7 linked regions of the Homo sapiens genome follow. The protein of the gene in region 1 purifies or fractionates together with the protein of each later gene. This does not show direct contact. Each region holds a gene or a part of one and is shown in the gene's direction. Other genes may lie near its edges.

What was found.
Region 2: the proteins of STYX (region 1) and CPOX purify together in Homo sapiens (affinity purification with mass spectrometry; one study listed by BioGRID and IntAct). This does not show direct contact.
Region 3: the proteins of STYX (region 1) and C17orf75 purify together in Homo sapiens (affinity purification with mass spectrometry, with the first as the bait; one large-scale study listed by BioGRID). This does not show direct contact.
Region 4: the proteins of STYX (region 1) and CAPZA1 purify together in Homo sapiens (affinity purification with mass spectrometry, with the first as the bait; one large-scale study listed by BioGRID). This does not show direct contact.
Region 5: the proteins of STYX (region 1) and HRNR purify together in Homo sapiens (affinity purification with mass spectrometry; one study listed by BioGRID and IntAct). This does not show direct contact.
Region 6: the proteins of STYX (region 1) and MYH8 purify together in Homo sapiens (affinity purification with mass spectrometry; one large-scale study listed by BioGRID and IntAct). This does not show direct contact.
Region 7: the proteins of STYX (region 1) and FAM91A1 purify together in Homo sapiens (affinity purification with mass spectrometry, with the first as the bait; one large-scale study listed by BioGRID). This does not show direct contact.

The regions. Positions count from the first base shown.
Region 1 is NC_000014.9:52,732,675-52,737,457, forward strand, and holds part of STYX (serine/threonine/tyrosine-interacting protein), read left to right. Parts: intron 1-2,170; exon of another isoform or gene 2,171-2,204; intron 2,205-4,783. UniProt on the Homo sapiens protein: Catalytically inactive phosphatase. Acts as a nuclear anchor for MAPK1/MAPK3 (ERK1/ERK2). Modulates cell-fate decisions and cell migration by spatiotemporal regulation of MAPK1/MAPK3 (ERK1/ERK2).
Region 2 is NC_000003.12:98,578,946-98,581,278, reverse strand, and holds the end of CPOX (oxygen-dependent coproporphyrinogen-III oxidase, mitochondrial precursor), read left to right. Parts: intron 1-508; coding exon 509-596; 3' UTR 597-1,833; downstream 1,834-2,333. UniProt on the Homo sapiens protein: Catalyzes the aerobic oxidative decarboxylation of propionate groups of rings A and B of coproporphyrinogen-III to yield the vinyl groups in protoporphyrinogen-IX and participates to the sixth step in the heme biosynthetic pathway.
Region 3 is NC_000017.11:32,334,950-32,339,732, reverse strand, and holds part of C17orf75 (protein Njmu-R1), read left to right. Parts: intron 1-1,381; coding exon 1,382-1,525; intron 1,526-1,778; coding exon 1,779-1,836; intron 1,837-4,290; coding exon 4,291-4,410; intron 4,411-4,783. UniProt on the Homo sapiens protein: As component of the WDR11 complex acts together with TBC1D23 to facilitate the golgin-mediated capture of vesicles generated using AP-1. May have a role in spermatogenesis.
Region 4 is NC_000001.11:112,622,832-112,626,331, forward strand, and holds part of CAPZA1 (F-actin-capping protein subunit alpha-1), read left to right. Parts: intron 1-3,500. UniProt on the Homo sapiens protein: F-actin-capping proteins bind in a Ca(2+)-independent manner to the fast growing ends of actin filaments (barbed end) thereby blocking the exchange of subunits at these ends.
Region 5 is NC_000001.11:152,210,844-152,214,744, reverse strand, and holds the end of HRNR (hornerin), read left to right. Parts: coding exon 1-1,669; 3' UTR 1,670-2,669; downstream 2,670-3,901. UniProt on the Homo sapiens protein: Component of the epidermal cornified cell envelopes.
Region 6 is NC_000017.11:10,418,597-10,424,024, reverse strand, and holds the start of MYH8 (myosin-8), read left to right. Parts: upstream 1-2,074; 5' UTR 2,075-2,095; intron 2,096-2,318; 5' UTR 2,319-2,362; intron 2,363-3,767; 5' UTR 3,768-3,797; coding exon 3,798-4,007; intron 4,008-4,994; coding exon 4,995-5,138; intron 5,139-5,223; coding exon 5,224-5,380; intron 5,381-5,428. UniProt on the Homo sapiens protein: Muscle contraction.
Region 7 is NC_000008.11:123,809,183-123,813,965, forward strand, and holds part of FAM91A1 (protein FAM91A1), read left to right. Parts: intron 1-1,099; coding exon 1,100-1,169; coding exon of another isoform or gene 1,170-1,208; exon of another isoform or gene 1,209-1,479; intron 1,480-3,336; coding exon 3,337-3,522; 3' UTR 3,523-4,783. UniProt on the Homo sapiens protein: As component of the WDR11 complex acts together with TBC1D23 to facilitate the golgin-mediated capture of vesicles generated using AP-1.

The DNA.
Region 1 (4,783 bases):
TATTTATTTTTTTGAGACGGAGTTTCACTCTTGTTGCCCAGGCTGGAATGCAGTGGCGTGATCTCCGCTCACTGCAACCTCCGCCTCCCACGTTCAAAAGATTCTCCTGCCTCAGCCGCCTGAGTAGCTGGGATTACAGGCGCCCGCCACCACTCCCGTCTAATTTTTGTACTTTTAGTAGAGACGGGGTTTCACCATGTTGGCCCTGCTGGTCTGGAACGCCAGACCTCAAGTGATCCGCCTGCCTCGGCCTCCCAAAGTGCTGGGATTACAGGCTTGAGCCACCGCGAAGGAGTATGCTTTCATATCCTCAAAATGATTCAGTAATTTCAGCACTTAACTGCAAGCAACCTTACAAATAATGTAGAGGAGTCCCACATTCCAGGTGAAGAAATTGTACCTTACTGAAAATAAGTGATGTGCCAAATTAACAACACAGTAGCACAAGACACAGAAGGACCTCGGCCTCCTAATTCATTGTTCTTTTTAATACACTTCAATTCTTCCCTGCCCTAATCTTAAAAATTCTAGTTTAAAATTTTCCCGGACTTTGCATTTAATCTGTTACTGTGTATATCATTATGTATGCCTTATTCCTGCAAAACTGATAAATTCTTGCTGGGAATATATACCTGTCTTTTCTGTGTGGGACTTGAAAACACACTCTTTTTTTTATGCTACCAGATGTGTGGGGGTTTTTCCATACCAAGCAGTTTTCCAGCAGGCATGAACTGAATGTCCCATAATTCAATTCTGACACATATGTACCTGAAGTTAGTCAGATCCCACAGGTTAATGGCTCAGTCCCGCAAGGCTGCCCCCAACCTCAGATGGTAATCACAAGTAGTAGGTTGTCACCTATACACTCCTGACTGACTGTAAATCAGGGTTCCCGTTACTCCCTCCTTGGTTCAGTTAACTTGCTAGAGTGACTTACAGGACTCAGGGAAGTACATTTACGGGTTTATTATAAAGGATACTACAAAAGATCAGTGAACAGCCAGTAGGAAGAGATGAATAGGGCAAGGTATGGGGGAAGGGGCACACCACCATCCCAGTGTCACCAGTAGAGTCATGATTGCAAGCTGTCCAGGTTCTTGGCGTTTTGAACAAAGAATTGGACAAAACTCCAAGCAAAGAAAGAATGAAGCAACAAAAGAACAAAAGCAGGGATTTATTGAAAACAAAAGTACACTCCACAGTGTGGGAGCTGCCCTAGCAGCACTCCCCCCCGACCCCCGCTGCTTTACCGAATCTTCTTGGGTCCAAATACCCCCTAGAACTTTCCCATTGGCCATTCCATGCTCACCTCATGTAAATGAAGAGGTGGCTTGCAATTGGTCTGATTGGTTGCCAGACCCACCCCCACATCAGTCCGCTTGGTTGTGGACAGCGACCATTCAGTGGCTAGAGTGAAGTTACAAAGTTGCAAACGAAGATTCCACCCGCAGTCAGTCTGATTTGTTGAGGACAGCCAATTTCCCGTCTACTGTGCAGAAAAGGTAGGTGGTTTGCAACGGGAGTAGCCTCTGGTCCTTTTGTTACTTAGGCGTGGAAAGTTAGGGTTTTCCCTTCAAGTTAGTTCTGGGAAGTCGGGGTGAAACAGCCTTAGATTCCCTGCCTCCAGACCCTATTCACCTGCCTCACTAGCACCTCCAGTGTTTTCATCCAGAAGCTCAACAAATCTTATTCAACGGTTTTTATAGAACTTCATCTCCATCCCCTCCCATAGAGGTGTGTGTGTGTGTGAGGCTGAGAGTTCAACCCTCTTGTCACATGGTCTTTCTGGTGACTGGCCCCACCCTAAATCACTTCATTAGCATAATCAGGTTTGATCAAAAATAGTGGCTCATAAATAACCAAAGACACTCCTATTAGAAAATTCCAAGAGTTTTAGGAGGACTGTGACAGGAACTGGAGAGAAAGACCATGTATTTCATATTATATCACAGGGACAGAGGTAATGGTTAAAGCTAGTGGATAATGATGCAAGTATTGTCTGCTGAAAGCCAATTCGTTCCGTATTTCTTAATATTGCATGTTTGGTATCTTTTGGTTGCAAGCAACAAAAACGAATTTAAGAAAAAGAAGAAGTAATTAAATCCGGCCGGGCGTGGTGGCTCACGCCTGTAATCCCAGCACTTTGGGAGGCCGAGGCGGACGGATCACGAGGTCAGGAGATCAAGACCATCCTGGCTAACACGGTAAAACCCCGTCTCTACTTAAAAAAAAATTAGCCAGGTATGGTGGCGGGCGCCTGTAGTCCCAGCTACTTGGGAGGCTGAGGCAGGAGAATGGCATGAACCCGGGAGGCGGAGCTTGCAGTGAGCCGAGATCTAGCCACTGCACTCCAGCCTGGGAGACAGAGCGAGACTCCATCTCAAAAAAAAAAAAAGTAATTAAATCCAGAAGGGTAGTGGTGCAGCTAGTTTCAAGGATTTGACCAAACCCAGGTATTATAAAGCATCAGAACTGCCTTTGTCTCTCATGAGTTCTTATCTCTACTTTCTCTCGGAGTCTCTGCTTTCTCTCTGGCTTCTCCAAGATGTGAAGCTTGGCCATCTGGGGTCACACCTTTATGAGCTTGGTTATTGAGGAATAAAACTGAACACTTCCAGCTTCTGTGTTTGAAATCTAGAGGAATTGCCCAATTTAATTCATGTTCCCACACTTTGGATCAGTCACTGTAGCCAGGAAAGGGCAGATACAATGAGGGGCCCCATCTAGGTCATATCCCTAATTCCTTGGCTAGAGGAGTGAAGTTTATTGTTGGTAGCCCTCCCACCAAAACCATAGGAACATTTCCACAGGTAGAGGGTACTTTCTGGGCTGATAAAACTATACATAGGGGCCACATAAATAAACTATTAAATAGGAGCATATAGTTATTCATAATAAACTGACTAATAAGCACTGTTAATTTTCTAATCTCCAGTGAGATAATGTAAAGTGTCAAATGGTCTTAAGTAGTTAGAGTGATCAGCCAGCATTGTTTCTTTGACACAGGGAGCACTACCTGGAAATCCAAATTACAGACCAAATTTAATAAAAACTGAATTCAAGCAGAGAGTTCAGGGAATGCTTTTAATGTTAATGTGATCAAGCTATGATAGGTTGATGATTCTGTCACCTCTACAAGAATATTACTTTCACGTTTCTTGAAATATTGGTATTCTTTGTATAGGACAGTGCTAACAAAAATTTAGATCAGTCAGTTTGTGAAAAGATTGTTACTTTTTTTGTTTAAAACTTTTTCATGAATTTCCATTGTTTTGAAGATGAAATTTAAACCCTTGACATTATTTCCAGGGTCCTGTATGGTCTGACATCTGCATACCTCTCTAACCTCATTATGAGCTACTCTTCTTGCTCCTTTCTCTGTAAGCCCTAGCCATATTTATCTTCTCTCAGTTCCTGGAATGCTTTAATTTCCACCCCCCGCCTTCAGAGCCTTTATGTTTGCTATTTTCCCCTGCCTTGGCTGCCAGCACCTTCCTTACCCTCACCTAATTAACTGCTTACCCTTGGGTTAGATCCCACTTTAGGCAACATTTCTTCAGAGAAGCTTTTCCTGTTTGCCAGTTTCTCTAACTCCTTTCCTCATCCTCTAGACTGGTTCAATTCCCCAGCTACTATGGCACTTGGTACTTTAATACTTACCTTTGTAACATTTAACAATTTTTGGTCATTGTCTATTTTCCATTTAGACTGAACCTTTCATAAGAGAGCTTAGATATTAGGAAGAAGGAGTAGCTGATAGTACCAATTTTTAAGCAAATTGGTTGTAGCTGGGGCTATTGGTTTTATAATTTAAAAGTTAATGTTTTATCTTCTCTTCTGACAGAAAGTGAAATATTTATTTCCATTGCAGTTTAGCAACTTTCCATGTTTCCCTTTCCATTTTTCTTGTGAATCCCGTAGTACAGGATCAAAGATAGGAATTATTTAACATACATGGCTGAGGATTCCTTTTCTAGCTCCTTTATTTAGAATGGTGCTTTTTAACCCTTACTCTAGAGTAAGGAATTTTTTAAAAATACTGATGCGTGGACCCTACCAGCACCTATTGTAGTTTAATTTATCTGAATGAAGCTAGATGATTCTAATGTTCAGTCAGGTTTAAAAATTGCTGGTTTAGAAAATATCTTACTTGAGTACTCTTCTGCCCCTCCAGTCCCTGCCCACCTTCTCTTTTTATTTGAGTGAAACATTTTCTTTTCTCCTTTGATTTAAGCAAAGCTCAAGCTTGGTGTGGGAATGAAAGGAAAAGGACTTTGGAGGGATTTACCTATTTTTTCTAGGAGAGAAAGTGCAATACTAACTTTTCTGTTTTGTGGAATGTCCCAGTGCAAGTCTAGTATTCTGATGTTTTTTTTCTTCCCCAAACTGTTGCCCCCCACCTCCAGCCTATGTACAATTTGTGTTTTATTTTAGTATTGTGTATATAGGATTCAGCACTATCCTCAAATGTATGAACATATCCCCTGTGGATAAGGGGGGACTACTGTATTTGTAAAAGTTCATATTTCATATTTCAATGCATATAAGAATTATTTTATCTAATGGTTACAGTCTATATCCTTCATTGATGTGTTTATTTGAGGGTCTTTGAACATTTTTGTAACTTTTCTCTATCCAAATGCAGTTTTATAGATCATTTTTATGGAAAGGAAGGAGATAATTCGGAAGGATGTTTTAACATGTGGTACTTTCTACCTCATGTTGATCGAAAGATTTTCACTTGTGAATTAATTTGTCTCAGAATCATGGTGTTTCACAATAG
Region 2 (2,333 bases), on another chromosome or scaffold:
AGAAAATCACAGTCAAATAAGGCAAATCAAATTGGGTATTTTAAGCGGTGACATGGTGAATCCCACAGCTCTATGAGGGCAAGGAGAGACTAGAGGGAGAGAGAACACAGGCTGAGTCATGGTGGCTAGGAGGTGAGATGGACCTTCTCTGCCTATTTGTTTTTCTGAGAAGAGGTATGCATAAGTATTAAGCTAAAGAAGGTTTGCCCATGGATCACCTGAGTTTCTACACTATATGAAACCCTGGTTTATATTAAAGGTGTATTTTGGCTCTGGGATATTAATACTAGCCAAAGCATACCCAAGAGTTGTTAAGAAACTATTTGTTTGGCAAATAGTTTTTTTAAAGGTCAAGTTGGTACAAGGCACATCAGGCACAGTAGAGACAAAGAAGTATAAGGCTTTTTTTTTTTTTATTCTTAGGATTTTATTTTTCATTTATTTTAAGTAAAGAGGTATGTGTGTCATTTTTTATGACGTTTTTTGCTTTTGTTTTGGACATGCATAGATGGGAGTACATGCATTCACCCTCAGAGAATTCCAAAGAAGCTGAAATTCTGGAAGTTCTACGCCATCCAAGGGACTGGGTGCGTTGATGCAGGCAGAATGGCTGTGCAGGGGTTTGGAGGGCACACGATGTGTGCTCCCCATGCCACTGGTCGGCACTTTGCCACTGTGTGGCAGTTACCCGTGCCTTAGTCTTCTCCACTCTGCACCCTACCTCGTGGGCAGATGATAACATGTTTTGGATGCTGTCAGTGATGAATGGTGAGATGGCAGATTGTCAGAGTCAATTGATTAAACCTCATTTATACTTCTAGTGTCATTTTATATGACTAGTTTACAAAATAGGACATTGAGTTTCCAAGTATTGAGATAAGGGAATATAAATAGTATTATATGTATCAGGAAATCTCTCATCTTGTTTTTGTTTCATGTATTTTTTAAAGTTTTCATTTGTGCCACAAAAATCTGTCGTGGAATATATTTTATTTTCATTAATTCAGTGAAGTTGAGACTTCATAGTAATTTTAGAATGCAACTTGAAGGTAAAAATTTTACTTTGTCAATACTGAAGTCTCTGCTGTAATCCTTATATATCTTTCTCCAGAGAACATAATATTGTCAAATAGATACACATTTTTCTAATAGGTATTTAGAAGCACTTGAAATAATCTCTGCATGTGTTACAATTCAGTTATTTCTGTAGTTTGTAAACTCTAAAGTGACATTACTATTATTTTAGAGATGTCTAAGTTGTAATTTTGATTTTTGTGGAACCATTGTTTGTTAATGTTGGGATTCTCTGCACTTTTGAATGTGAAAGCTTATATCCCTGAATTCTGATACTTAAGAGTTTTCTATTTCAGACATCTCTGTGTGGAAGTTGAGACTAAGAATAATCCTAGGGATGTCATGAATTTAGGCAATGTTTCTCATTTGGAAAATGAAATGAGAAATAATTTCCTTCTTTAAAGCAAGTATATATAGTATGAGAAACTTGGAGGCATTTCATACACACGTTTCTTAGGAAAATGGACACATTGAAAATGTCCTCTTTTTTATATTAGAGATTCTGCAGCTCTTTGCTCTTAAGAGCAAATCACAACAGGATTCTTAATGTATGATTTCTTTGTTCATATATTATGAATGTATTATTTTATTTGCTTCGTAATAAAGTTTATAAGGAAGAGCATCTCATACATATCATTATCGTGGAACACGTTGAATGTTTGTGATTCTGTGTGGCCTTTTTGGGGCTGGAAAATGTATGAATTCTTCAACTGTCTTACAAGAGATCTGCTAATAAATTTTATTATTAAATAAGACTAAGAAATATTTATATTTTTTGTTGCCAGGATAATATAGGAAAACGCATATATTTCTTAGTACAGTTGATCCTTGAACAACATTAGGGCTAGGGGCCCCAACTCCTCCTTACTGCATGCAGTTTCAAATCCTTGTATAACTTTTGACTCTCCCAAAACTTAATCACTAATAGCCTCCTGTTGACTGGTAGCCTGACCAATAACATAGTCAATTCGCACATGTTTTATGTTATATGTATTATATACTCTTCTTACAAGCTAAAGAAATGAAAATGTTATTAAGGAAATCGTAAGAAAGAAGATATATTTGCTATTCATTAGGTGGAAGTGAATCATCGTAAAGGTCTTCATCCTCATTGTTTTCATGTTGGGTAGGCTTAGTGGGAGTAGTAAGAGGAAGAGTAGGTCTTGCTCTCTCAAGGGTGGCAGAGGTGGAAGAAAATCTGCGAAGAAGCAAAACTCTTCAAACCTGTGTTGTTCAAGGCTCAGCTATGCTAATGCCAT
Region 3 (4,783 bases), on another chromosome or scaffold:
CTCCTACTAGACCTGCAGAATTTGTCTTTATTCTCTGGCAGCCCGAGCACTGGGCCTCACACATAAACATTTGTGGAATGGAATTAATTGAATGGCAGAGACCCTGGCACCCAATTGCACTTTATTTAATTAGTTTATTTTTTTTTGAGACAGGGTCTTGCTTTGTTGCCCAGGCTGGAGTGCAGCGGCCCGATTACAGCTCACTGCAGCCTTGACCTCCTGGGCTTAATCAATCCTCTCACCTCAGCCTCCCAAGTAGCTGGGACTGCAGGCAGGCACTACGATGCCCAGCAATTTTTTTAATTTTTTTTTTTTTTTTTTTTTAGAAATGGGGTCCTACCATGTTGCCCAGGCTAATAAGTTTTGTACTTAGAAGAAGAAAAGTGTTGATTATTAAAACTAAATTTGTATACAGTTTGTATTTTCACAAACTTTTATGTAGTTTTCCTTACAAAGGGGAAATATAGCAGATACTCTCTTATTTTCATTTTCAGATGAGGAAATAAACTCAGAGTTTATGTAAACTTAAGTCATGAGGCTGGTCAAATTGATGGAGTTCAGGCTTAAACATGAGCATTCTTAGTCCAATTCCAACTGTCTTTCCATTACACCTCTCCTTTTTTGTTTTGTTTTGTTTTTTTTAAGACAGAGTCTCACTCTGTTGCCCAGACTGGAGTACAGTAGCATGATCTTGGCTTACTGCAACCTCCGCCTCCCTGGTTCAAGCAATTCTCCTGCCTCAGCCTCCCGAATAGCTGGGATTACAGGCATGCACCACCATACCCGGCTAATTTTTGTATTTTTAGTAGAGATGGGGTTTCACCATGTTGGCCAGGCTGGTCTCGAACTCCTGACCTCAGGTGATTCACCCGCCTTGGCCTCCCAAAGTGCTGGGATTACAGGTGTGAGCCACTGTGCCCGGCCTCCATTACACCTCTTTATTCTAGTTCAACTCAGACCGTGAAGTTAGCATACAGGTCCTCAGGAGTTTGAGGCCACTTCCCAAGGATAAGGCCACCTTCAGGCACATCTGCCTTAAACATCAATTTGTGAAGCTTTGGGAGAGGGGAGAACATACTTTTTTTTAATATAAACATGGGTATGAACTAGAGTGAAATTTGTGTGAATTTTTCACATAAGACAGGAGAATTCAAAGAAATTTCATGTATGTTAGTGGCTGCTTTAACTAAAGCCCTCCAGGGTATACATTCATTTTTCTTTGCTGCTGCAAGTACACCAACGAGAAGTCTGGGAAGCTCTGAGTTAGTGGGCAGTTTAATGGTGTTGCCAGATCAAGATGACCAGAATTCAGAGCAGTCCACAAAATTATAGATGCATGAGTAACCAAAATAATGCATTTTACATTTTCTTTCTTTTCTAGAATTCCAGGTTACCGAGTTGGTTGTTATTACTGCCTTTTCCAAAATGAAAAACTGCTTCCTGAAACAGTAACGATAGACTCTGAACGTAACCCTTCAGAATATGTGGTCTGTTTTTTAGGAGGGTCTGAAAAAGGACTTGAGCTATATCCTTTCTTTGGTTTTTGAGAACATCAGGAAGGAAAACATGGGAAGGCAGGTGGAAGAATATTACTACCAACCTCCAAAAAGCTTTTCTACTCCTCGTGTATTTAGTTGAATTTCATACCTTCATGTGGCCATTTTGCCTTGGCTTGTTTGCATTTGCAGCTCACATTATTTGAGAGATTTTATATTTCTTGTTGAGAGATGAAATACTGTCTTCATTATTCATCCTTTATTGCTTCCTTAAGAACATACTTTCAGGCTTGAATTGGACAAGTACATTCAAGGGCTGAAAAATAACATGAATTGTGAGGTAAGGTGACTGACTTAATGGTTTTTAAAGACTGAAATGGGGCCAGGCTCAGTGGCTCACGCCTGTAATCCCAGCACTTTGGGAGGCCGAGGTGGGCAGATCACAAGGTCAGAGACCAGCCTGGTCAATATGATGAAACTTCATCTCTACTAAAACTTAGCCAGGCATGGTGGCAGGCACCTGTAGTCCCAGCTACTTGGGAGGCTGAGGCAGGAGAATCGCTTGAACCCGGGAGGCAGAGGTTTCAGTGAGCCGAGATTGCACCACTGCACTCCAGCCTGAGCGACAGAGTTAAAAAAATAAAATAATGACTGAAATGATTAATATACTGTGATTGCTCTACTTGTCAAATCATATAGGTAGACACAAAGACGCCTGTATTCTAGAAACTTGCCACCTTGTGAGCTAGTAGAGAGGTGAATTTTTTTTTTTTTTAGACAGGGTCTTGCTTTGTTGCCCAGGCTGCAGGGCAGTGGCGCGATCAGGCTCACTGCAGCCTCAGCTTCTTGGGGCTCAAGCAGTCTTCTCGCCTCAGCCTCCTAAACAGCTGGGACTACAGGCAAATACCAACACGCCTGGCTAACTTTTGGTATTTTTTGTCGAGATGGGGATCTCACTTTGTTGCCCAGGCTGGTCTAGGATTCCTGGCCTCAAGCAATCCTCCCTCCTCAGCCACCCAAAGTGCTGAGATTACAGACACGAGCCATTGTGCCCAGCCTACAGGTGGTTTCTTTTTCTTTTTCATTTTTTGAGATAGGGTCTCACTCTATCACCCAGGCTGGAGTGCAGTGGCACGATCATGGCTTACTGCAGCCTTTTCTGGGCTCCAGCGATCCTCCCACCTCAGCCTCCCAAGTAGCTGGTACCACAGGCATGCACCACCATGCCCAGCTAATTGTATTTTTGGTAGAGGTGGGGTTTTGCCATATTGCCCAGGCTTGTCTTGAACTCTTGAACTGCTGAGCTCAAGTAATCCACCTGCCTCGGCCTCCCAAAGTGCTGGGATTACAGGTATGAACCACTGCACCCAGCCTACAGGTGATCTTAAAGGGATACAGGAAACATAGTCCTGTAAGTGCTGAAAGTTTCACAAGACTACGTCTGATGTTTTGTATCTATGAAAAATTCGATCTATTCAATGGCATGTAGTAACATGCCTGGCGAGGAAGAGGATGTCCTTTTCCTGATTTCTAGGCATATAAGATTTATATTATGGTCAGAAGTACTGGTCCATGCAGCCTCTGGCACCAAAGACATGCTATGCAATAGTATGGCTGTTCTTGAACTAAACATCAAAGATTCTTAAAAACATTCTATTTTCATTAATTGATCTTTTATGAATTAGGCATATCCATATCAACTTATTCAAACCTTTGAAAAACTGGCTGGGTGTGGTGGCTCACACCTGTAATCTCAGCACTTTGAGAGGCCAAAGCGGGCAGATCACTTGAGCCCAGGAGTTCAAGGCCAGCCTGGGCAACAAAGTGAAACCCCATCTCTACAACAAATACAAAAATTAGCCAGGCATGGTGGCACGCACCTGTAGTCCCAGCTACTTGGGAGGCTGAGGTGGGAGGATCGCTTGAGCCTGGGAAGTTGAGGCTGCAGTGAGCTATGATTGCACCACTGCACTCCAGCCTGGATGACAGAGTGAGACCCTGTCTCAAAAAAGCAAACAAAAACAATGCTTTCAGCTTGTAGCAGTTGTTAGTCATGACTCTCACAAATTTACTACCCATTACATATATAGTAGAAGTTATACTTTTCACATACTTAGAAGATACTGCAGGAGAGAGGAAGGGATAGTGCAGGAGTGAGCAACTGATGCAAGTCTAATAGAGTTGTTCTCCCGGACTAGAGCTCTTCGTGTGTGACACTAGTCTTCAGGGAGCAGTATAGCCTAGAAAGCCAGATGTGCTCACGGTAGCATGTCTGACATCTGGAGTGGAGTGGAGTGCTTTGATGAGTTACTTGTATCCTTCCCCATTCACATTCTGAATACGAATGAATTCTCTATCTACATGACTAATTCAAAAGGCACTTAATAAGCTCATACTATGCATGTTTTAGACACTGTACCACAGGTGCCAGGGAAATGAGGATTATTGAGTGAGTATCTCCATTGAGTGCACAGTACAGTGGGAGGAGAGGGACTTGTGAGTGCCCAACTCTTCCCTGTGAAGAAATAGCATGGAACCCTATTCAGTCTCTTCATTTTATAGAATGCATTTCTTGGTGTGTTTTAAATAAATTCAGTACAGATTTAACCCTCACCCTGCCCAACAAGCCAGGAAAGGTATATCACAATTTCTTTTTTTGAATTGGTGGTGTTAGCTTTAAAAAGGGAGGTGTCTATCCTGGTCTTTTTCACCATCAAGGATATGATGAAGAAAATATGAAGTCCACTAAAGGAAAGGCTTATATTAAAGCAAATGATGTTCTTTCTTGATTTAGGCAAGGGGCCTGGAGAGTCACATAAAATCCTATCTGAGCAGCTGGTTTGAGGATGTTGTATGCCCAATCCAAAGGGTTGTTCTTCTCTTTCAGGAAAAGCTTACCTTTCTGCTACATGCTGTAAGTACTGCCAAATGAGAGCATTTCCTTAACTGAGAATCACTTTGGATGATTTAGAAACATACTCATTTTCTCTGAACATGACTCCCATCCCTCCCCAAATATTCAAACTATGCTTGCTATCAAGATAGACCACACTTTATTTTCTCAGATCTAGAAAGTGATATTACTAAGGTAGAGTTGAATTTCAAATGCTGAGTCTTCCTAATAGGATAAAACATTTTAAAATAATTACTTTTCCAAGTGATCTGGGAAAGGTATAGTTTCCAAAACAATTTGAAAAGGAAAACAAAAATCCAGAGCAATTTTGATTCTATAAAATGTTAATGAGCAGTGGCTGAACAAGGCTCTGGAGAGCTTGTGACCAGTGCCC
Region 4 (3,500 bases), on another chromosome or scaffold:
AAATAGATGAAATATGAGGGCTTTGTTAGAGCACATGAAAAATATTTTATACTTTTTTTTTTTTTTTTTGAAACGAAGTCTTGCACTGTCTCCCAGCGGGCTGGAGTGCAGTGGTACGATCTCGGCTCACTGCAACCTCCACCTCCTGAGTTCAAGTGATTCTCCTGCCTCAGCATCCCAAGTAGCTGGGATTACAGGCACCTGCCACCACACCCGGCTAATTTTTTGTATTTTTAGTAGAGACAGGGTTTCAATATGTTGGTCAGGCTAGTCTCAAACTCCTGACCTCGTGATCCGCCTGCCTTGGCCTCCCAAAGTGCCGAGATTGCAGGCGTGAGTCACTGCACCTGCCAAATATTTATGCTTTTAAACTGGATCCTTGATTATGTATTACCTCCTTAATTTACTAGTTACCATTGTAGGATAAAGCAAGCCCTAAAGATTGTTTGGTGTGGCTGTTTTCTAACAAGTCATCAATTAATATTAAAACTGTCATTCTTCCATCTTCACTTTTCAGTTAGTTTTGCTGAGAGGTATTCATATAATCTGTTAAGACATCCTAGGACAGGCCGGGCCCAGTGGCTCACGCCTGTGACCCCAACACTCTGGGAGGCCGAGGCAGGTGCATCATCTGAGGTCGGGAGTTTGAGACCAGCCTGACCAACATGGAGAAACCCCATCTCTACTAAAAATACAAAAATTAGCTGGGCGCAGTGGCACATGCCTGTAATCCCAGCTACTCAGTAGGCTGAGGCAGGAGAATCGCTGGAACCTGGGAGGCGGAGGTTGCGGTGACCCGAGATCACGCCATTGCACTCCAGCCTGGGCAACAGGAGCGAAACTCCGTCTCAAAAAAAAAAAAAAAGAAAAGAAAGCCCGGGCGCGGTGGTTCATGCCTGTAATCCCAGCACTTTGGGAGGCCGAGGCGGGTGGATCACGAGGTCAGGAGATCGAGACCTGACCTCAGGAGATCGAGATCCTGGCTAACGCAGTGAAACACCGTCTCTACTAAAAATACAAAAAAATTAGCCGGGCGTGGTGGCAGGTGCCTGTAGTCCCAGCTAATCGGGAGGCTGAGGCAGGAGAATGGTGTGAACCCGGGAGGCAGAGTTTGCAGTGAGCCGAGATTGTGCCACTGCACTCCAGCCTGGGTGACAGAGCAAGACTCCATCTCAAAAAAAAAAAAAAAGAAAAAAGAAAAGAAAAAGAAATCCTAGGACAGGAGCATAAAGCCTAATAAGCAGGTGCAAACTCACATGTCCAGTCTTGTTAGTAGTACTGATTTATCATAATTTCTTCCAGAACACTTAGCTGTTTTATTACGACCAGGCTTAATGCTAAACAAAGTAGTGTAAATTTGTCAGAAAATTCAGATCCCAGGTTTTTCTGATTATGTAGCCATGCTTTTTTCACTATACTTTTCTTTTCCATATAGGTATGAATGAAAAACCAGAGTAGAGACATCCATTTAGTGGATTATAAATGAGGTATTATGGGCTGGGCATGATGGCTCACGCTCGTAATCCCAGTACTTTGGGAGGCCAAGGCGGTCAGATCATCTGAGGTCAGGAGTTAGAGACCAGCCTGACCAACACGGTGAAACCCTGTCTCTATTAAAAATACAAAATTAGCCAGGTGTGGTGGTGCATGTCTGTAATCCCAGCTACTCAGGAGGCTGAGGCAGGAGAATAGCTTGAACCCAGGAGGCGGAGGTTGCAGTGAGCCGAGATCGCGCCATTGCACTCCAGCCTGGGCAACAGAGCAAAACTCCATCAAAAAAAAAAAAAAAAAAAAAAAAAAGAGGTATTATGATGTAATGGAAAAGAGTGATTGTGAGTGTTAGATATGGCCTTTCCCTTTCGTGCTTCTAGCCACCTTGTCACTGATTTTGGAAACCTCACTTAACCTCTATGGGTGGGCCTCAATTTCCATCTAAAATAGAGAAGTAGGGAGGAATTGGATCAAACCAGCCCAAGAAAATTTAATTAACTATTTCAAACTCTAATGAAAAATCTCTACTTTAAAAATTGAAACACAAAAATGTTCTGGGAGGTTCTATTCATTGTCTGCTTTCCTACATTTGCCCTGATTACAAGACTGAGTTCCTTGATAATTGAAACCATGTCTCTTTATCTAGTGCCTAGCATAGTGCCAAGCACACAGTGTATGCACAGCCTATTGGTATGAAAGAGAACACAACTTCATTAATTCTCATATCTCTCCAGTTCACACCCCTTCATCTCCTGTAAAACACCCCTTCCCCTACAATTATTTCTGTTAGTCTCTAGGTGTTTCTTGTATTCAAGAGTATGTCCACAGTTTGGGTGCCTCTGTGCATTCCTTCTATCTGAGCATCTGCCATCATTGGTGCTCTGCCATGCCACTGCTGGGAACATTTGACCCCTCTGGGAGCATCTTCCTAATAGATCCCATAAACTGCAAAGCCTTATGGTTACCAAAATGATGGTGTATATATATACTTGGAGCCTTGCAAAGCCCCTAATGAAAGTATTTCCTTCACCAGCTAGAAGTACTCTCCTTTAGCGATCAGATTAAAACACACACCCAGGTGTGTGTTTTAAAGAAAAAGGACCCAAGAGGGAAAAAGTTTCCAAGGCATGAATGAATTAAGAGTGGCAAATGCTACTGAGATAGAAAGATTAGGACGGAGAAAACAGCACTCACTCTGACAGTATTCTTTCCAACTGGATTTGGTAAATAAGAGTGAAGAGGTACCTCGAGTGAGCACTGGGAGAAGTCATACTGGAAGGGATAAGCAGTGATTGACATAAGAAAGTAAAATAAATTCAGGTTCATCCAGACACCCCCATAATCTTGCCTTGACCCAGAAACATTGTGTTCACAGGACTTTCAGCTTCCCACCCCCATAAGTAAGCTTCCTAATTATGATATCTTGGTCTTGCCAAGCATTTAGAGGGCCTTACTCTGTGGCCCTCCAGATAGTGATTTGAATGATTAAGTAAACCTCTTTTTAGATAAGTGTTCTAGTCCAGTCTAACATCAGCTTGTTGGTCTTTTTGGCACTGTCATTGTCCAGTACCAGCACATTCTTGGCTCCTTGCCACATCTCTGGCCTCAATGTGGGAGGCAAAGACAGTGAGCATTTCCAGAGTGGTGAGATGGGTGCAGCACATAATGAGGCGATGACCACACAGCATCTCTGAACAGCATGTCCACACAGGGCTCGAAGTCATTATGCTGCATGTCCACCTCATGTCCACAATAGCTGAGCAGTTGAGATTGGTGGAGTGGACCTTCTCATTACTCATCATCTAGAGGAAGGTCCTCATCATCTCTACTTCTCAAAGGGGTAGAATTGAACCTGAACCTGCTTGACAGACAAGAGCCCAAGCCTAACCAAGGTGGCTGCCATGGTGACCCTTGCCCTGAAAGCCATTTCCATTAATTTAAAAATTGTAGGTATATAGGAACTATAATAACAGGCTTAAAATTAAAATTTGCTCTGTTTGTTGGGTCAC
Region 5 (3,901 bases), on another chromosome or scaffold:
ATCTGGCCAGTCTCCTAGTCGCGGCCGACATGGGTCCGGTTCCGGGCACTCTTCCAGCTACGGCCAACATGGGTCTGGCTCCGGTTGGTCTTCCAGCAGTGGCCGACATGGGTCTGGCTCAGGTCAGTCTTCTGGATTTGGTCACCACGAGTCTAGCTCATGGCAGTCCTCTGGTTACACTCAGCATGGATCTGGCTCAGGTCACTCCTCCAGCTACGAACAACACGGCTCTAGGTCAGGACAGTCATCTAGGGGTGAACGACACGGATCTAGCTCAGGTTCATCTTCCAGCTATGGTCAGCATGGGTCTGGCTCCCGTCAGTCTTTGGGCCACGGCCAACATGGGTCTGGATCTGGCCAGTCTCCTAGCCCTAGCCGTGGCCGACATGGGTCTGGTTCTGGGCAGTCTTCCAGCTACAGCCCATATGGGTCTGGCTCAGGGTGGTCTTCCAGCCGTGGCCCATATGAGTCTGGCTCCGGTCACTCTTCTGGCTTAGGTCACCGAGAGTCTCGCTCAGGACAGTCCTCTGGCTACGGTCAACATGGATCTAGCTCAGGTCATTCCTCTACCCATGGGCAACATGGTTCTACATCAGGACAGTCATCGAGCTGTGGCCAACATGGAGCTAGCTCAGGTCAGTCTTCCAGCCACGGTCAGCATGGCTCTGGCTCAAGTCAGTCTTCTGGCTATGGCCGACAGGGCTCTGGATCTGGCCAGTCTCCAGGCCACGGCCAGCGTGGGTCTGGGTCAAGGCAGTCTCCCAGCTACGGCCGACATGGGTCTGGCTCCGGTCGGTCTTCCAGCAGTGGCCAACATGGGTCTGGCTTAGGCGAGTCTTCTGGCTTTGGTCACCACGAGTCTAGCTCAGGGCAGTCCTCTAGTTACAGTCAGCATGGGTCTGGCTCAGGTCACTCCTCTGGCTACGGACAACACGGCTCTAGATCAGGACAGTCATCTAGGGGTGAACGACACGGATCTAGCTCAGGTTCGTCTTCCCACTATGGTCAGCATGGGTCTGGCTCCCGTCAGTCTTCGGGCCACGGCCGACAAGGGTCTGGATCTGGCCAGTCCCCTAGCCGCGGCCGACATGGGTCCGGTTTGGGGCACTCCTCCAGCCACGGCCAACATGGGTCTGGCTCAGGTCGTTCTTCCAGCCGTGGCCCATATGAGTCTCGCTTGGGTCACTCTTCTGTCTTTGGTCAACATGAGTCTGGCTCAGGACATTCCTCTGCTTACAGTCAGCATGGTAGTGGCTCAGGGCACTTCTGTAGCCAAGGACAGCATGGTTCTACATCAGGACAGTCATCAACCTTTGACCAGGAGGGATCTAGCACAGGCCAGTCTTCCAGCTATGGCCACCGTGGCTCTGGCTCCAGTCAGTCTTCTGGCTATGGCCGACATGGGGCTGGATCTGGCCAGTCTCTTAGCCACGGCCGACACGGGTCTGGTTCAGGGCAGTCTTCCAGCTACGGCCAACATGGGTCTGGCTCAGGACAGTCCTCTGGTTATAGTCAGCATGGAAGTGGCTCAGGGCAAGATGGGTATTCTTATTGCAAAGGAGGAAGTAACCATGATGGGGGAAGTTCTGGCTCATATTTTCTCAGTTTTCCTAGTAGCACTTCACCCTATGAATATGTCCAAGAGCAGAGGTGCTACTTTTATCAGTGAATAATAAACATAAATGCAATTTACTCAAGTAGCAATTTAAGAAATAGGAAAGTCATCTATGAATTCATCATGAAAGACAAGCAATCCATCATGAAATTCGTTCTAAAAGTGAATCAATGCATTTCTGTCTCTTTCTTTAGAGCCTAAAACTGTAGCATATATCTTGTTATGGGGTTCCTTCCAAAGACTGTTAGGCATTTGTGCTACTTTGTTAGAAAATACTGAGTGGAATAACTTGTTAGAATGAGGGTTAAACTTTGAGGAATAATGAAAAGCTTTTAAAGAGCTTTGGGTTTAGTTGGAGTTGTCTTTTTGAGAGCTCATCATTCATTTATAGATGGTGCCAAAGCTAACCTTACATTTCTTAGAAGCAAAATATTACAAATGCATTACCAGTCCTAGATACAAAGCTTTGTTTTACAGCAATTAGTGTACCCTAATTTTTAGTGTGCCCCAAGTTTGGTGTGTCCCAATTTTTGGTATTGTGGCAGAAGGTGAAGGCTCTGAAAGCAAAGATGCAGCAGCGGTAGTGTCTTTACTTATCAAAACCATCAAGTCCTTTTTCTTGGGTATATATTTAATCAGTAAGTTAATTAGTGGCATAAAAAAGTAGCATCAGGGTCTTTTCCCAAGCCAGTGAGCAAGAGCATTATTTCATAAAGAATAGGGATTTATCATTTCAGGAAAAAAAAAAACATTCAAATGTGGGCTTTAGCTTGTTTTCAGCAGAAAGATCTTGCTCCCTATTTCTAAGAGGCTGCTCAATATTGGGAAATATATTGAGGAGTTATTCCATGGAAATACAATGCTTTCCACCTACTACTGTAGTTCAATAACGTTTCCACCTGAAAAAATATCATCCATGCCCAGATGAAAAGGAAGAGTATCTGTCACTGCTACATAGTTCCTTAATTTGACTGTAACACATTTGTTTCAAGTCTTTGGATTCAAACAACCGGATTGTATTAAAATTGACAATAAATAAATGTTGATTAAATACTAAGACTTTTCTCATCTGTGCTTCATTTCACTTCTTACATACAGATGGTCATCCTAGAAACCAAACCAAACAGCGATTTCCCAATATTCTATTTTTCACAATGAAGAATAGATAAAGCATTCTTAAAACTCAATAAGACAAACTACTTCATTTTAAAATGATCAAAATTCCATCACACTGGTATTGGCAATGATTTTTTTGATATGACACCAAAATCACACACAATAATGTGGAGCTGTCAGCTCCATACATTTTATTGTCCCTGAAGCCCTTAGAGGGAGACAACATATGGAGGTAGAAGGCGATATTTGTCTTGGTTTAACAAAAACTTTTTAGTGTTAGTTTTAATTTTTAACAAAAAAAGTTTTTTAAAAAAATTTAAAACAGAAAAAAGCCTACAGAATAATGATGTAAAGAAAAAAATATTTGTGTTCAGCTATACAATGTGTTCGTGCTTTAAGCTAGGTGTTAATTAAGAGAGTCAAAAAGTTTAAAAATGTAAAAGTCTATAAACCTAAAAATTTACAGTAAGCTAAAGTTAATTTTTACTGGAGGAAGAAATTCTTTTATAAATTTAGTGTAATTCAAGTGTATAGTGTTTACACACTCTACAGTAGTATACAGTAATGTCCTAGGCCTTCCCATTCACTCACCACTCACTGACTGACACCTACAGCAACTTCTAGTCCTACATGCTCTATTCATGGTAAGTGCCCTATACAAGTGTACCTTTTTTATCTTTTATGCCATATTTTTACTGTACCTTCTTTATGTTTAGATACATTTAGATGCACACTTACCATTGTGTTAGTTGCCTACAGTACTCAGTACAGTAACATGCTGTATAGGTTTGTAGCCTAGGAGCAATAATCTATACCATATAGCCTAGTTGTTTATTGGCTATACCATCTATATTTGTGTAAGTACACTCTCTGATGTTTGCCTAAGGGTGCATTTTTCACAACATATCCCCCATTGTTAAGCAACACGATTGTGTACTTTACTATAGGGCCTAGCAATTCCACTCCCAAGCGAAATGACAACGTATGTCTACATTGAAGATTTTTACATGAATGTTTATAGCAGCTTTAATAATAGCCCCAAACTTGAAACAATCCAAATGTCCACGAACAGATGACTGGATAAACAAATTGTGGTATGGCTATACAATGGAATTCTATTTAGCAAGGAAAAAAAGAATAAACTACTGATACATGTAACACAGATGAATC
Region 6 (5,428 bases), on another chromosome or scaffold:
CTATTAAATCAATTTAATCAAAATCAAAATCCCAATAGAATTTTCCATAACCTGAAGAACATGATTCTAAAACTCATATAGTAGAAGGTAAAAATTAACAGGACAACTTTGAATAATTAGGGAAAATTGGCCCTACTGGTCATCAAAACCTATGCTATTGGCATAGAAATACGGTACAAAATATGGAATCCAGAAACAGATTACATGCACACGAACACACACACAGCTGGATTACAAATCTCACTATTTTTTAAGCATCAGATTGAAAATACAGGATTACACATCTCACTATTTCATAAGCATTAGCTTGAAAATACAGAAGAATATATGTATGACTCTGAGTTCTTGAGTTAGAGAAAGTTTTTCTTATACAATACACACAAAAAACCAAAAATATAAAAGAAAATTTTTTATAACTCTGACTACCTAAAGATGTAAAACTTCTAGAAGATTGAGATCGCATAGTAAAGATCATTATTAAATCAGGAGAAACTTTTTAGAACTTGTATAAACAAAATTATTACAATCTTAAACCTACGGAATTTTACACAGAAATTTAAAAATGAGTAATATCAAAATAATCCAGTGATAGAGGGAATGGTGAGAATATATAAGAAACAAGACTGACCATGAACTGATAATTATCAGTGCTGGATGATGAATATACTAGGTTCATTATGCTATCCCCTCTACTTTTGCATATGTTTGAAATGTTTTCATATTATTATTTATGTACTAACATGGCAAATGATCCAAGAGTGTAGAATGAAAAAAGAAAGTTTGTAAATAAATAATCATACTATCTATATTTTAAACATCTATATTATATATTATAAATTTTCTATGGCCCAATTTCCTTAGACCAGTTTTACTAATTTATATTTTCCCAGAAAATACATATGTAAATGTACAGAAAAGGTCTGCAATATTACAAACTAAACGGGTATCCGTAGTTACCTTGGGAGAAAAGGGAGATACCAGCATTGTGAGTGTTCATCAAAGGGAAAATTTAGCCTAATCTCTAAGGCTTTAATTTTTATGTAATTACAGTGTAAGAGGTTACACACCTGCATATATTTATCAAACCCATAGGCCTGGAATTGTTCTGCATCCTATCTGTGGTGGTGGCTACATGAATCAATACGTGTATAAAAACTCATACAATCATACAACAAAAGAAGTAAATTTTATTATAAAGTTTAAAAATTTTTAAAAATAAAAGCAAAAAACCTCATAAAACTGTCACTTTAAAAGGGTGAATTTGACTCTATGTAAATTATACCTCAATATATCTGACCTTAAAAAAAGGAAAGAGTTTAATTAAAAAAAATCATAATTTATTTAAAGAATAGGGTATAAATTACATTAGTGATATGATATATTAATTATTAAAGCATATTACAAGGCACACATGTACTATATATGCATCTATAATATGATCCCACTTATACGCCTCTATCTTATTTCTGCATTAGAGATTACAGAGACTTTTTTTACTTACCTGTATTTTTTTCTGTAATAAACATATTATTTTCTACTAATAATGTTTTTCAAAGTTAGATGAGTGGGCACTGGCCCAATGGTGGAGACTCAAGGTAGAATCTCTGCTGTCTAAGCCTGGACTTCAAGAGTGAGCATCTGTAGTGGCCCAAGGGAATGCAGTGGGGGGTTCCCGTGGTAGCAAATAAGGAAACGTGCTTAAGGCCCTGACAGCCGTGTGCCCCGGGTATCTGATCATTTGGCTACCACAGGCGTGCATGAAAGAGTTTGCCAAATTGAATATAGCTCTTAAGAACTTACTCTGAGGCCCCATCAGGCACTGTCAAAGATTCCCTTCCCAGCACACTAGAAAGCATTCTCTGCTGGCAGATCGGTCTCTGTCAAATTATTTATAGGAGATTGGTTTGCATACACAAAATGATATGAATACTTCTAATTATATCCAAACATGACAAATGTCACTACAAACTATGCTGAGGGTTCATGTTGCCAAATGTCTTGCCCTAACAAAGAGGAGGTAGTTGCAGCATCAGCACATTAGTTCCTATATAAGCAGGACTGCCCCTTGTGCCTTATTTCCACCAAGAACCCAGAGGTAAGTGATGAAGGCCTTGGAACTCGAAAAACCCCAGGTGGGGAAAAGAGCTGACCTCGTAGTTATCTGTGAGCATTAAACTGCTCTCTCAATCTTAACTTTTGTCTTCATAGAACCAAGCTTTGGGGTAGGGAAACTTCAATTCTGTAACTATAATAACAATTCTGTAACTATAATATTGGAATTTCGGAGCATCACTAATAAGAAGCTTGTTGTTTTACAGAGTGGAACACTTCTGAACCTGCATTTTTATCTGGAACTCCAGAGGTAAGACTTGGCTTTATTAATTTATTGATGACAGAGGGGATATAGTCTAATGAAGCTGTGAACAATCCTGAATTATACACCATTTCCATGTTTTTGCAGTTATATCAGGAAAGAGTGTTTCCGAGTGAGTGTTTATAAATGCTAGAAAATAACTTTTTCAAAATGTCTTCTTCTCAGAGACTATCCTCATTTGGGTTCCAAGATTCAAAGACCGTTTAGGACAGAATTAGCTTCAACAGTGAGTTCTCAGCTGTGCTTAGAACTGTCCAGTGGCAATAGACTAGTCCATGCCAGTCTTCTTCTATGGCAAAGCATTGAGGACTTAGGACATTTTATAGACATTTTTAAAGACTCCAGAAAGATTTTTACCTAGAAATATAAATATAAATATTTTAGCTACCTTTGATTATTTGTTATTTGTTGTTAGAAAGACTTATTATTATTTACTTAACAGGTCGCAAGTATTACATCCACCGGGTGTTAAATACCATGACTAATTTAAGAGGAATCCTGCCCTTCCCTAAGTAACTTTCTAATTGAAAATAAAGGAAAAACTCAACCAATCTAACATGTCCACATTGCAGAGGCCTATCTATTAATCAGAAGACAATGGCTTACATGCATGTGATGTACTCTTAAAACTTTTTTCTCTGTTTTCTGGGTGGAAAGAAAAGAAACCCATGGAATTTATGTGGGAAGAAGGGCCTTTGTGCTGAAGCTCTCATTCCTCTGTGGTTAGATCTGTTAACTGACAGCTGAAATCTCTCATGTCAAAAAAGATTTTGGAATCAAGGCAATGCTAAGTCTGTTGGGAACAACCCAAATTACAAAAAATCCAGAGTATTAGAATGTATTATGTTCTTCTAACAATCCACTGAGAGATACAACACCAAATATCAACATAAAGATGTTAAAAATAATTATTTGCTTTATGAGAGAAAATGGCCATCTTAAAAGGCAAAGATTTTTTGATAGCTTTGAAAATATGAACCTTCATTTGAACAAGACAAACTTTCTTTTCTCACCATATGATTGTCCTGGCATATGGCATAGACAAACATTATGCAGAAAGAGGAGAGGAAATTAAATAATGACAGTTGCTATAAAACAATCCATCAATAGTTTTAGCTGTAGAGGTTTCATTCTAATTCAATTGTAGGTACCCTATCCCTGAGGATCAAGATATGTGATCTGAAAAGGAAATTCACAGTCCTAAAAATGAAATCTCAAATTACAGTCTCACTCCATACTTGTCCTTTAGACTATGTTAGAACACTGGGGAGTGCCAGTTTGGAGGAATAGTTACAGCACAGGCTATGTTCAACATTTCTTTCATTTCAAATCCTAACTCACATTTGTGACTTCTGCTTTTTATATCTCTCTCTCCCGTTTCTCTCCTCCCTAGGCAGAATCCTTTGCTAAATAAATCGCAGCCATGAGTGCGAGCTCAGACGCTGAGATGGCTGTTTTTGGCGAAGCTGCTCCCTACCTTCGAAAATCAGAAAAGGAGCGGATTGAGGCCCAAAACAAGCCGTTTGATGCTAAAACATCTGTCTTTGTGGCGGAGCCCAAGGAATCCTATGTGAAGAGCACTATACAAAGCAAAGAAGGAGGGAAAGTAACCGTAAAGACTGAAGGTGGAGCAGTAAGTGAAAACAGGGAGAAAATACTCCCCATTTTATTTCTTGGTTCAAAAGTTGAAGCCTAACTTACTGGGAATCTCCAAGCCTGTTGCCAATGCAAACACCCTTCTAGTCAGTGTTGAGACATTAGATGTGGAAGGCAAAAGAAATTCACAGCAGTACCTTCATGTCTTCCCTTCCCAACTTCGCACAGGACCTCACCCCACTATGTATGGCCTTCACCATTTCCCTTCAATTCCCCACTTCCTAGTCTGAATGTCCAAACTTGAGGGAAATGAAAACAAGCTCCTCCTATCAGAAGTTAAATATTTACTTAGTTAAATAATGTATTAATATCCCCATTACTTCCAAAAACATGAAGTTTCTTAATGAATGAAAGAAAAAAATAAAAATTTAGCCTACTAAAATAAGAAAAAAAGGATATAAACTGATAAATCTGGGATAAGAGAATGTGGGAGGAAAAAATCTTTTAAAAAGATAGTGTCCTAGCTCATCATAGGAAACAGGTTTTCTTAACATTAAACTCTGAAATGAATATATTTCATGCCTTTTTTAAGAGGACATTAAATAATATAATGAGAAGTATGTGTGATTATAGTTTTGTACCAAAATATACAGGCAAACATAAACCCTACCTCCAACCATTAAAACGAACTGGTCTTAGCCAGGCGCAGTGGCTCACGCCTGTAATCCCAGCACTTTGGGAGGCTGAGGCAGGTGGATCACCTGAGATCAGGAGTTCGAGACCAGCCTGGCCAACATGGCGAAATCCTGTCTCTACTAAAAATACAAAAATTAGCTGGGCATGGTGATGGGCACTTGCAATCCCAGCTACTCAGAAGGCTGAGGCAGGACAATCACTTGAAGCAGGAGGGCGGAGGTTGCAGTGAGCTGAGATCGCGCCACTGCACTCCAGCCTGGGCAAAAAAAGCAAAACTCTATCTCAAACAAACAAACAAAAACGAACTGGTTTCTTGCTTACTCACCAGACTCTAACTGTCAGGGAAGACCAAGTCTTCCCTATGAACCCTCCGAAATATGACAAAATTGAGGACATGGCCATGATGACTCATCTACACGAGCCTGGAGTGCTGTACAACCTCAAAGAGCGCTATGCAGCCTGGATGATCTACGTGAGTGTCTGTAAACACCTTTTTATTTCATGTCTCTCTCTGAGTAAAAACGAGATCCAAATGATAAATGTTCTGATCTTCCCAGACCTACTCAGGCCTCTTCTGTGTCACCGTCAACCCCTACAAGTGGCTGCCGGTGTACAAGCCCGAGGTGGTGGCTGCCTACAGAGGCAAAAAGCGCCAGGAGGCCCCGCCCCACATCTTCTCCATCTCTGACAATGCCTATCAGTTCATGTTGACTGGTGAGTGAGTGAGGCATCTATTTACAGAAATGTGTAAATAGAATCTTT
Region 7 (4,783 bases), on another chromosome or scaffold:
ATTAAATTTCACTAGATCAGAAATTAGTCACAGGCAAACATTTTGGGCACATGTTTTGATTATATTTATTTAGTAATCTAGGTGAGGTGAGGGTGTGGTGAAATGGGCATGCTGATATGGAGTATGAACCTAGATTTTAAAAAATGTATGTCTACAGAAAATTTCTCTGCATTTCTCTCACTCCTAACATACACACACTCATGTTATATTCTGTTAATAGTGATTGGTTTTTGTGGTGGAATTATGATGACTTTGCAAAATTTTCTTCACTTTCTACATTTTCTAAAATGGATATGTATTACTCCTTAAAGATGACATGTAGGTTTTATCTTATATACCAGCTCTGATCCATTGTGAGTAGCTGCTAAGAGGCAATGTTGTAAAGGTTCTGAGACAAACTGGGTTAGCAGGAAAGAGTATAATTGAATCTAATTGTCATGATAGGTGGCTTGGAGAGGTGAAATCCACAAGTCAAGATCTTCTTATTTTAGAAAATGAAGTTGGACAATAATTCATTTAAATGGTGTAATGTAGCTTTTATCAGAAAATGAAGAGTACTCAGTTGACAATTTCAACATCTATTCTCTAAAAACAAAGTAATATACATGAGTAAAAAATAGAAATACTATAGAACTTTAAAGATTACCACTATAATTTTTACTGACTTACATATTTGAAAAATATTTAGGTAGGTTGGTGTGTGTTTAATCTGTTATCAGGTTGTCTTTTGCAATTACTTTGGTTGTTTAAAGGTTGTGTCATAGTTGTCATTCCTCAGAGTGCCTAAATCTTCATTTGAAAAGTTTTCTTTCATTTAACATTTATGTTTATAGTAGTTGAATTTTTTTAAAACAATAACTTTGATTTTAGTTACACGATGTATTTTATTTCAAAATGGACTTTTAATGCATGACTACTCCCTATTATTAAAACAAGCAAAAATTTCATTGATGAGAAACACTGAAATTGTTTTTTAAGATGTTTTGTGATTGGCCAGGATATATAGATGCATTTAAATTGCTAAAATTAAACTCTTATGAGAAACTCATTCTTGCCTTTATGTTTGTTTTAAACTGTTTCTCGCCTTTTTTTTTTTCAGCCTTCAAAACCTCTTACATTCCAGTAGAAAACTCTCTCTGCAAGTCCTTAACTTTGTTCACTCATTCCAGGTAACAAAAACCAAAAAGTCCAAATGGTACTTGTACTGAGCTTTAAGTATGCACAACACTTCTGTGTTTGTTTTTGAGTCACCACAGCAGCAAGATATGAAATAAACATTAATTTTATTGTACAAATGAAGACATTGAGATTCAAGAAGTTAATGGACTTGCACATTTCACTCGCCAGGTCTTCGGAGACCAAAGCTTGATCTCTTTGTTCTGTGCCAGTGCTTTATTCAACAGAAATGTGTTAAGTGTCTTTTATGGGCTGTGTGCCATGCTAGGTGTTAGTTTTTGGTTATAGCGCACTTCCCAATAACTAAAGCGATTCTCCACTGCTGGGATGGGCTGTCTGTTGTGGCAGCGAAGGCCAGTGCTCTGGACTTCTTGTTTTTCCCCCATCCCCAAGGAAAGAAAGAATATTCTAGACTTGATTTATAGGTAAACTTTTAAAATAGAATATTTCTGTTCAGAATATCTAATTCAACGTTATGAAATCAATATTTTGGAGTTTTACTTCATTCATTCAGTTGGTAAATGCTTGACCCTGACCTATGCCAGATTCTTTGCTGAGTGCTGTGGAAACAGTGATGTGTAAGATACTAATGGAACTTAGAGAATGTTGTGGGAGACAATAATCAGATAAATATTAAGATATATAAGTTCTAAAAGATTTTAAAAAGTACTTTGAAGAAGCCAACTATGATGAAATCTGCAGGTAGACCTAATTTCAATAGGTGCAGGATAATATAAGCTGAAGCCAAAAAGTTGGAAAAGAATATTCCGGCAGAGCTTAGGTCTGTACTTCCTGTGTCTGGGAAATGTCCAGTGAACAAAGAAACAAATGAAGCCCAGTGTGGCAGAAACTTCATGAAAGAGGGGTAGAAGCAAGAGGTAAGGTTGAAGAAGAGGGCCGGAGCACGGTGTGCAGGGCCTTCTGGCATATGTTAGAGAACTAGTATTTTACGTTGAGTGCAAAGAGAAATGATTAAAGACTTTTAAACAGGGGAGAGAGGTTATTTCTGAAGGACTATTTTATAAAAATAGGCAAAAATGGAAATTTTATAAGGATGCAATAAATGGAAAAATTTCAAAATTCTGTCAATACTGGCCTGTCTGTTGTGGCAGTGAAGGCCTTGGCCATAGTGAATTAATAAATTAAACTAATTTGGGATATATTTTGGAGATAGGTTGATAAAACTTGATGATGAATTAAATGTGAGGAAAAGATTAGGGCTGTGGAGGGAAGGGAGGGGAGGGATCATGAATGATTCTTATGTTTTTTGATTAGCTGGATGTGTGAAATAGAGAAGACTGGGGAGGAAGAGGGGAGGGAAAATTTGAGAGTTCAATGATGGGCATACTGAGTATAGAGTGCATGGGGAAGCATCTGAAATGAAGTGTCAGATAGGTGGATGTTTGAGCATGGAGTCCTGGGGGGAGGTCTGTGCGGAATATATGAATCTGAGAAGCGTGGAGTAGGTGGATTATTCTGGTGCTTAGTGTTTTGTAAGGTTTTTTTTGTTTGTTTGTTTTGTTTTTTCCCCGAGATGGAGTCTGGCTGTGTTGCCCAGGCTGGAGTGCAGTGGCACGATCTCGGCTCACTGCAACCTTTGCCTCCTGGGTTCAAGCCATTCTCCTGCCTCAGCCTCTTGAGTAACTGGTATCACAGGCATGTGCCACCACACCCAGCTAATTTTTTTGTATTTTTAGTAGGAAGAGGTTTCACCATGTTGGCCAGGCTCGTTTTGAACTCCTGATCTCAAGTGATTCACCCGCCTCAGCCTCCCAGAGTGCTGGGATTACAGGCGCACAAGCCACTGCACCTGGCCTTTGTAAGTTTTTTTTTTTTTTTAGAGATTTTTCTTCTGTTAGGTAATACTTTGGGGTTAGGTTAGGTCTTGTAAAAATGAACTTTTGCTTTTCCCACAGTCTCGTAGCCTCTTATTTCTATTTAAAAGGACTTACTACAGTTTAACGTTGTTAGTCATTTTTGCACATATTAATACCTGTCATTGATTGCTTTGGGCTCACAGTGTAGATCTTTGCATCTCCTGTACTGCTTTGCAATCCATAAACACTTCTCAGGTAATCAAGGTCTCTCTTTCTCATTAGTTATATTAAGTGGTTTTGGTAAAGTGTTGAATATCATTTCTCTTGTTTCTTGATCTTTTAGGAAGGTGCTTCAATATTGGATATTCACACAGAGCCCAGTTTTTCAAGTTTGCTTTCACAGTCATCGTGTGCTGACATGGGTGTTCCACTTCCTGCAAAAAACTTAATATTTAAAGATGGTGTCTTATCAGAATGGAGTGGACGGTCACCTTCCTCACTTCTTATTGCTAATCTCCATTTGCAATAATTTGGTTACACCATTTGTTGCTCACACTTTCTGCCTTTTTTCTTTCTTAACGTTAGCTTTATAGTGTCAGCCACTAAAAAGCATCCTGCTGCTGCAGTGCAATTCTTGCTTAACTAATATTAAAAGTTGGGGAACATATTCATGTTTTCTGAAGTTTTGCTCATTATTGCACATCTTATTGCGACAAAGTGCTTTTTAGCAGCCAGCACTGTATTTTTTACCTTGAGACAATCTGCATTTCTTTTATAAAACTAAGTATATACTTTATAGGCTTTATGATGACTGTTATGTTTATAAGCAGTCACTATGAAAATTGCAATGGTAATTTTATATGTTAGTTTATCAAACATAAATCTTGTTTAATTTTATATTTTGTTACCTATACTTTGGGGGATCAAGGGAAGAGATGGAACTCTTCCTCTGAAAAGGCTTCTTGGTACTTAAAGTAGTAAAACTATAAAACAATAAACATCCAGTATTGAGAGATGATATGATAGGGCATTATGAATTCCTATGGGTGTCTGTAAATTATGTATGTCAGTTGGACATTGTAGAAGGTATGTAAATCAGCATAGTTGTGTATAACTTAACCTTGATTTATAAGGTCTTAAGATTATGACTATTCATTGACATCTCATGAGAAGCTTTAGAAGACTTTCTATTTTTAAACACCATTTATATGTGGACTTCTGTTGTCACTGACTTTGGGCTTTATATTTTCATAGAGTCTTTATGGAAAAAATAGAATTTATTTTCCACTCTTGTAGCTATAGCTGCTGCACACTTTCACCCTGATTTATTTTTTTGTTTCTTAGCTTTGATGTTTTCAAACCAAGGATTGTGATTTTAGGTTAGAATTACATATTAGAAGCATTAAGACTATGTCTTTGGATCAGAATGCTTTAGTGATAAACCTACTTTGAAGACATACTCTTAAGCAATCTGGATCTTAAATTTATGTGAATACTTTTTTAGAAAATGATAAAGAAAAATGGAATTACTTCAAAGTGTTTCTTGAGTCATTGATTCTTTTAGCATCTCAAATGTTAATTAGAATAATTGGAATCACTTTTTAGACTTTTCAAGTTACCTTCCTTGGGAAGTTTGTGCAGTGTTATAGTTTAGTTTAGCTCCTCTTACAGGGTAATGGTTTGCTAGTTTAAAACTGTAACCAAACGAACTGGTCAGACAACATATATCTAAAACACTTAAAATGTTAGGAAGTTTGGGAATGTTATAACCTAAACGTTTTTGCTGGTAA